Linked DNA regions of Homo sapiens: region 1 is reported to be linked to region 2. The links are microRNA targets in miRTarBase. Many come from high-throughput screens and were not tested one by one. Region 2 holds a microRNA gene; the other region holds the end of a gene's coding sequence.

Evidence for each region. Region 2 holds the annotated microRNA hsa-miR-3169 (UAGGACUGUGCUUGGCACAUAG, at 1,912-1,933, shown strand). A microRNA usually pairs through its seed, bases 2 to 8, with sites in the 3' UTR of a target mRNA and lowers its output. Matches are read on the target gene's strand: a 7mer-m8 pairs with bases 2 to 8, a 7mer-A1 pairs with bases 2 to 7 and ends in A, and an 8mer does both.
Region 1: the mRNA of RPL22 is a reported target of hsa-miR-3169. Seed matches in the 3' UTR shown: 8mer at 2,050-2,057.

What each region holds. Positions count from the first base shown.
Region 1 is chr1:6,183,163-6,187,566 of GRCh38, reverse strand. It overlaps RPL22 (ribosomal protein L22), which reads left to right. Exons shown (of 4, transcript NM_000983.4): 4 at 751-2,547. The coding sequence ends at 895. Among named protein-coding and RNA genes, the nearest start is that of CHD5, 5.0 kb to the right of the region's middle.
Region 2 is chr13:61,197,377-61,201,780 of GRCh38, reverse strand. It overlaps MIR3169 (microRNA 3169), which reads left to right and starts at 1,901; the gene lies at 1,901-1,983.

The sequences.
Region 1 (4,404 bases), not on the chromosome of region 2:
TCTCGGCTCACTGCAGCCTCTGCCTCCCGGGTTCAAGCGATTCTCTTACCTCAGCCTCCTGACTAGCTGGGACTACAGGCGCCCAGCACGACGTCTGGCTAATTTTTTGTATTTTTAGTAGAGATAGGGTTGCATCGTGTTAGCCAGGATGGTCTCCGTTTCCTGACCTCATGATCCGCCTGCCTCAGCCCTCCAAAATGCTGGGATTACAGGTGTGAGCCAGTGCCCCTGGCCTAGTTTTTTTTCTTTTTTCTTTTTTTGGAGGCAGTCTTGCTCTGTCACCCAGGCTGGAATACAGTGGTACAATCTTAGCTCACTACACCCTCCGCCTCCTGGATTCAAGGGATCCTCATGCCTCAGCCTCCCGAGTAGCTGGGATTACAGGCGTGCACCACCACGCCCAGCTAATTTTTTTATTTTTAGTAGAGATGGGGTTTCACCATGTTGTTCAGGCTGGTCTCGAACTCCTGACCTCAAGTGATCTGCCTGCCTTGGCCTCCCAAAGCGCTGGGATTACAGGCCTGAGCCACCATGCTGAGGCTATTCTAATTGTTACTGCCGATGTCGATGGTACGTGGCTGATAACTCAGAGCCTTGGCTGGGTGTATTTGCCTTACCTTTGCCATTTTTGAGGCTTGGGAAAACACCTTGAATTGTAATGATTTTGAGTGCTGGGTTTTATAAATGTTAAAATGTTTTAGAATGCAAGCACCAACTGTCTAGTGGAGTTCTTGTGTCCTTTCTCTGCAGGTATTTGAAATATCTCACCAAAAAATATTTGAAGAAGAATAATCTACGTGACTGGTTGCGCGTAGTTGCTAACAGCAAAGAGAGTTACGAATTACGTTACTTCCAGATTAACCAGGACGAAGAAGAGGAGGAAGACGAGGATTAAATTTCATTTATCTGGAAAATTTTGTATGAGTTCTTGAATAAAACTTGGGAACCAAAATGGTGGTTTATCCTTGTATCTCTGCAGTGTGGATTGAACAGAAAATTGGAAATCATAGTCAAAGGGCTTCCCTTGGTTCGCCACTCATTTATTTGTAACTTGACTTCTTTTTTTTTCTGCTTAAAAATTTCAATTCTCGTGGTAATACCAGAGTAGAAGGAGAGGGTGACTTTACCGAACTGACAGCCATTGGGGAGGCAGATGCGGGTGTGGAGGTGTGGGCTGAAGGTAGTGACTGTTTGATTTTAAAAAGTGTGACTGTCAGTTGTATCTGTTGCTTTTCTCAATGATTCAGGGATACAAATGGGCTTCTCTCATTCATTAAAAGAAAACGCGACATCTTTCTAAGATTCTCTGTGGGAAAATGACTGTCAATAAAATGCGGGTTTCTGGGCCATTCGTCTTACTTTCATTTTTTGATTACAAATTTCTCTTGACGCACACAATTATGTCTGCTAATCCTCTTCTTCCTAGAGAGAGAAACTGTGCTCCTTCAGTGTTGCTGCCATAAAGGGGTTTGGGGAATCGATTGTAAAAGTCCCAGGTTCTAAATTAACTAAATGTGTACAGAAATGAACGTGTAAGTAATGTTTCTACAGGTCTTTGCAACAAACTGTCACTTTCGTCTCCAGCAGAGGGAGCTGTAGGAATAGTGCTTCCAGATGTGGTCTCCCGTGTGGGGCCCAGCAATGGGGGCCCCTGATGCCAAGAGCTCTGGAGGTTCTTGAAAGAGGGGACACGAAGGAGGAGTGACTGGGAAGCCTCCCATGCCAAGGAGGTGGGAGGTGCCCTGGAAATAGCTGCCTCATGCCACTTAGGCCATGACTGGATTTAATGTCAGTGGTGTGCCACAGTGCAGAGGCTAGACAACTGAAAGGGGCTACCAAGGCTGGGAAAAAAATGCAATTGTTGCTGTGAGTGACTTTGAAAGACTCTGGTGCCTTGTGGTGCCCTTCTGAAATTCAAACAGTAATGCAAAAGTGTCTGCATTAGAATTTACGGTGTCTAAAATTCATGTTTTTAAAAGAGCTTGCCTACAGATGGTTTCCACACTTGAAATTGTGCCCTGCGAGTTGCATAGCTGGAAGTTCAATGCTCAGTCCTACCTTGGCTCCCATTAAACATTTGGTGCTCTGTGGATTGAGTTGAACGTGTTGAGGCTTTGCAATTTCACTTGTGTTAAAGGCTCTGGCATTTTTCCATTTCTATGCAAATTTCTTTGAAGCAGAATTGCTTGCATATTTCTTCTCTGCCGTCACAGAAAGCAGAGTTTCTTTCAAACTTCACTGAGGCATCAGTTGCTCTTTGGCAATGTCCCTTAACCATGATTATTAACTAAGTTTGTGGCTTGAGTTTACAAATTCTACTTGTTGCATTGATGTTCCCATGTAGTAAGTCATTTTTAGTTTGGTTGTGAAAAAACCCTGGGCTGAAGTTGGCATTTCAGTTAAAAGAAAAAAAGAAACTAGTCCCAGATTTGAAAACTTGTAATAAAATTGAAACTCACTGGTTTTCTATGTCTTTTTGAACTCTTGTAATCGAGTTTTGATCATATTTTCTATTAAAGTGGCTAACACCTGGCTACTCTTACTGTACGAGGCTTTGTTTTTTTTAAGGACTGGCATGTGAAGAAAAGCTTTGTCCTCACGAATTAGTTGCTGTACCAACAGTTACGTTGGTCTTTATTAGGCTTAGAAGAAAAGATGTCCTTTATTTCCACTTTTCTTCCCTTAGTTGTGCTGTTTTGCCGCAGTGAGATTCAGGGGTTGGCTGTCACTGAACTCTGTGTAGAATTTCTCCAGATCCAGAGTCTGGGGATCAACTTTGCCAGCAAATGCCGTTTTCTGATGGGGAATAGGTAGTGTCAACTTGAATTCCATCACAACCATGACACCAGCTGCGCCCAAAGCACACTGTAGACCAGTTTCCTTTGTTTTGACTCACACCTCACTTGCCTGATCGAAAATAGTTGAGGCACAGGGGCTGACTGGGGTCGTGGAGAGTTTCAAGCCGTGATTTAAGTTCATAAGAGTCCGGAAACAGGAGGTTGGTCTCGTCTCAGCCAATGCCAGTTACACAACACCTTCACGCCCTTCCCTCGAGTGTGCTGGTACAGCTGAGGAAATGAGGTTTGTTGATGTCACTAAGTGCTACGAACTAGTCACTTCTAAAGGCTTCATGTTTTCCCTCCAAAAAGCCTCTGATCCCCCTTTTCCCATGGCACTTCCAGTGGTGAAGTGTTTGGGTTTTGAGGACTGTTGTCCTCATACATTTTCAGGAGCAGCCAGGTGTTGAAATACGTGGGTCCTAACTTTGCTCATGAATGGTGTGTAGCACAGAGGTGGTCAGAAACACGGGGAAAGTGAGGAAGTTGGATAATACCAAGTGTCTTAAGACAGTTGATATCTGGGGCTATCTAGAGCTCAGCCTTTTTAGGGGACACTTGATTTCCTGGAGGGTGATAAGGACCCTGGTGATGGGGAATAATGGTCCGGCTGTTGAAGTCATTGATGTCAGGGGAGCCTGGAATTTGGTGTTGACACCTGATTTCACTTTCCATTTGTACATGGGACTCAGACCCTTAAACTTGTCAAGTATTGTAAACCAAGACCTCCCACAGGAGAGGGGGACCTAGGATGTGGGACAGTTACAGATCTGGCAGTTCCAGGGGACAGACCATCTCCCCAGTAACCCTTGGACAGAATACTGGGGTGACGAGTCAGAAGCTGCAGGGTAGGGGCACCACGGCGGTGAGAGATGGGCCAGGTCCCTGAAGGAGAGCCTGGGTTGGCACCTGCCCAGGTTGTTCGCTGAGTCGTGGTGATGGGCCTGTATTTAGTGGAATAAACTGTGGGGTTGATTCTCTTTGAGGGAGAAGAGGGTAGAAGAGAGGCTTGGTGTGGGGATTTGCCATCCCTGCAAGGAGGTAGCCCTCCACCTACAGGAAGGAGGTGAGGACTGCCTGTTAAACGGTGCAATCATAGTGCTTATCTCTAGGAACAGGAAACTGAATTTCTCATCCAGCCATTTTCTTGTCTTTGGGATGGATTTGAGAATACACATTCTTTTTTTTCCCCCAGGCTATTTTGGGCCCAGCTAAAACAGTCTGTAAAGGCTGTGCTGACCAGCGGAGTGAGTTAGCTGCCACCATAGCTAGAACCCAGAGAACACCCATAAAACGTTCTCAGGCTTACACAAGGATTTTCTCAGGTTCAGGGCCATGGCCCAGGGCTGCCTTTTTGAGAAGCTCCTTCCTCCCCTGCAACCCCAACTGATTTGAATTCAGGTGGTGCAGGGTCCACACTTTCGGAAAAAGCCTTCAAGTGCAACGAAAGTCTTGGTGCAGCAGGTGGGCACTGAGCCTTCATTGCAGAGGACACTGCGGTCCTGAGTGACGCCGTTTCACCCCTGCCGAGGAGGAGGTGTGGGGCAGAGTTTTGATCTATGTGACT
Region 2 (4,404 bases):
TACAGATTGTTATAACCTAGAAGGCAGAAATATTATCTAAACTTTAAGCTTCAAAATTAGAACACAGAGGAGTGTATTGATCAAAAATTTATTATCACAAAAAAGTTTATAATGATCATAAGTGTATTATGATTATTAACAATGATTTTTAGAACGTGGCGTTTTATGGACTACATGCTTGGAAACACCTTAATAGGTTTTGCTTATCATTTATCTCTACTCTATAAGCCATTTCAGGAAAGTTATTCTTTTGAATACAGGGTCTGTGTTAGTTCATCATTTGGTTTCCAACACTGTAATGAAATAAAGTGCCTGGGATATTCTGAATCACCTTCCTGACAAAGCTTTAGAGGAATTGCTGATGAACCTTATAAAAGACTAAAAATATTTGCATGTATAAAGAAGATTGAGAAATGTATAAAAATATATCTATTACAAATTAAATATATTTTTAGAACAATCCCTAAAATTCCATCACTGAGCATTGATAAAAAGAATATTTTAATTTTTCATAAGTTAGCTATAATTTTCTAAAACCTCAAACAGAGCAAAAGTTTTAGTAATATATGATAGCTCCTAGAAGTTCAGAAGGGTAATTATTAAAACATGTTTTAAACTTAAAATAGCTATAAGACTTCATATTTTAAGCAGTGTTATAAATTATAATCTGATATGCATTTGTTTTGCTCTAAACTAAATGATCATCCTATGAGTGATGGAGGCTTTAACCAGAATAATCTGGTTATAATATTTATGAAATTGCCTTATAGGATGTTTAATTCCCACAGTGGCTTATTATAATTTCAGTTCTACAGTGTGAAGTGATACTGTCCTTTAAGAATTGGGGCTCTACTGTGACTGAGGCACCTTATTTTAACTTGGTCTCCTGTTAGGAGAAGTATTTGATTCTTTATTTATTTCTTTTATAGTCTCAGGTTATTTCTCAGATTAATGGGCCTAATTAAACCAAAAAAAAAACCATAAGAAATAGCAGCCCTATTTTGCTGATGCTCCCACTTTTTCATACCTTTAGGAATAACCATTCTTATTCTGTTATCCTACTTGATCACACTTAATTATGTTAGTAAAAATTTTTTGTAAAAATCCAAAAGGTATTTATCATGACATTGAAAAGTTGTTAAAGGTTTTCTTCTTGGATAGTTTACCTTAGACAAGAGATAAACTGAGTGCAACATGAATTAAATTAAGTGAAATAAATTTTATTGGAAACCACCATTTATGGCAGAGAGACTTTCCTTGAACTGATGAGTGATAGACACAATTGGATGCTAGGAAAAATATAATGGGTTATTTTTTATTACAGTCAAAATGTATCAAATATCTGCTACTCACTCATGATTCTGTAATGCTCTATCAGAGTGATGAAAGAAATCACAGATGCAGCCCATAGGTTCAAACAGTTTACTTTGTGGTGACAATGTGAATATAAAACATCAGTGAAGAATATAAGGTAGAACATAATTAACCACTAAATTACCTGATACAGACAATATAAATATTGGTTGAGAAGATTTAAATCAATTCAATGAAACTGTAGACAAGATGAGATTTGAGGCAAGCTTTGGAAGATAGAAAGGATTAGAATAGACAAATGGAAAGAAAAGGACATTGTAGGTGAGGCTGATGAAAGATCAAAAGCCATAGGTCTGGTAAGAGCATGCTGATTTAAGATACAATGTCGTAAAGAGATCAGCTTAACATGTGGGAAAGTGTGGTGAAATTAAGGAGGACTTTCAAAACCATGCAAAGTATTGACTTAAAGAGCAAACAACGATAAAATCCTAATTATTTCTAAATCTTTGAATGGCCTGATGGTAATAGTGACAGTGTTGATAAGGTTGCTAATAATACTTTGTACTGTGACTTATGCTACTAACATATGTGAAAACATAGGACTGTGCTTGGCACATAGCACAAAGTCTTATGGTACTGTGTGCCAAGCATAGTCCTGTGTTTTTACATATGTCATCCCACATGAATCCTCACAAAACCTTGTAATATTTCATACCAATTTTACAACTGATGAAACAGAAATTGTTTTAGGTCATATAAACTGTAAGAGTCATAATGAGGAATTCAACTCAGATATGTCCTAGCAAATACACGTAAATATTGGTAAACTTTTTACTGAAAATACAGACAACATTAAGTAGGAGGTAATTTATCAGAGGGCACAAGAAAAATTCGACTAAATTTCTAAAAGAATTTTTATTCGAGTAAAATAAGATATTTTAAAAACACACGTGAAGAAACTGTAGCTTATAATTGGTCTGTATTTCATTGTGATAAATCAATGTCTCTCAAAATGGAATCTATTCACTGTTCACATATTCATAAACTTGGCTTGCTCATTAAACAACAACAACAATAATAACAATAATAGCACAACATAGATTATTGAGCTTATTCAAAACAAAATGAATAATAATATTTTGGTAGTGAGAATGGTGGGTTTAACAGCCTTAAGAAGAATTGGTATGTACATTGACAATACCCACACTAGGATGCAGAAGAAATCATTCTTCCTGGTATATATATAAAAATATAATTGATAGAATTTAGATGTACCCCATGCTATTTCCTGGACTGTCTTCCCAGAAAGATCTATGATTCTCAGGTTGGTGTAAATCTTTCCTATCATGCTTTTGCATTTTAAAAATAAATTATAATTTAATATATATGAAATTGCTTTGTAAATTTAAACTACTGTATATATAATTTTATGATTTAATTTTTAGACTTAGCATTATGTTTTTGAGGTTTTAAATGAAGATAAATGTAGATCTGATTAATTTTCATTGCTTTTTAATATTCAATTTATAATAAAAACAAGGCTTATTCATTCTTCTACTGAGATAGGTTGGTACAGTTTTGGAATTCTTTTGGTCCATTTATTAGAGTTTCTCACATATATGCTTTCTGGTGAAATTGCTGAATTCAGGGATACACACATACAACTTTATTAGGCAATAAAAAATTATGTATAAGAATTTCTGTTTATCCTCAGTTATAATAAAAGTAATTATGCAAATGGAAAAGTTTGCCACTATGGATATGAAATGGTATATCAGTGTTATTTATTAGCTGTTCAGATGAGAAAACTGTGAAAATAATTCCCTGTGTTTATTGGCCATTTCAGTTTCTGATTCCTTAAATTGCTTGTTTTCTACAGGATTGTTTATTCTTAATTTGCTTATTGCTTTGGTAGAGTTTATTATATATTTTGATTTTTTAAAAACCTATTGAAAATATAATCTGTGATTTGTCTTTTCCTTTCATAAGGTTGCCAGCACTAATTATGTTAAATAAATTCATGATGTAAGATACAGTAGAAAGGAAAATCATCATATATTCAGTAAATTTTTAAGGGCCAGACAGTATACTAGTTATTTTGGGATGTCTTGTTTCAATGTAACTTTATATTCAACCTCCAGGCTATGCATTACTACCTCAACTTTGCTGATTGCACTGAGGTTCAGAGATGCTAAGTAACTTGTCAAGGGATTTGGATCTATGAAGAAGATGAGGAAAATTCCAAGCTAGTTTTATTTGGCTCTATAACCCATGTTTTTTTTTTAACAAGGTGAATAATAGTTACACTTTCAACTCTTCAACACTCATTCACATAGATTTGTTAACTTGAGTCCCATTAAATTGCAGCGATAACAAGGATATGTATTATTAACACTGTTTGATCATTAATTTGGAAGATGGGGTGAGAAATAATTCGTCCAAAGTTACTAGCAAAAGTATAATTCAGTTTAGCCTTTGGATCCAGTGCTTCTTCCATTGACCTTCCTTAGGTTGACATAAATTGGCATCAGTGATACATGTGCTCATGACTAGTAAAGACAACATTTTAAAAAATTAACCTTTTAATGCATAAAATTAACCTCATAATGCATAATATATGCTGTGTGAGTATAGATTACATCAGTCTTAATACTAATATACTTGTATCTACTTTACTAATGTGTTTCCTTCATTGACCTTAGTCATATATTGACCTTAGTTTTATATATTTTAAGATATTTACTTCATTTAGTATCAAAAAGAGTCTGGAAATTTAGCAAATATTTATTTTAAAATTAAAAGTACTTTTTTGAACAAGAGAGTTTTATATTAAAGGAAAAAGACTTATAAATCCAGAGTTTGGATAATAAAAAATAAAAAGAATCAAATAAAGCAAGGAAAAAATTATATGTGGCCAGAGAAAAGAGTTGGAAATTCCTCATATAAACCATTCACATAGTGCAGATAAAATCCATGGCTCAAATAACTTATGTGCTTTTTCTTTTATAAAGTCGGTTGATGGAGGATTGATAATTTAGTCATGCATTTTTAAATGATCTTTTAACACACACTGGTTTTGTTTTCTAACCA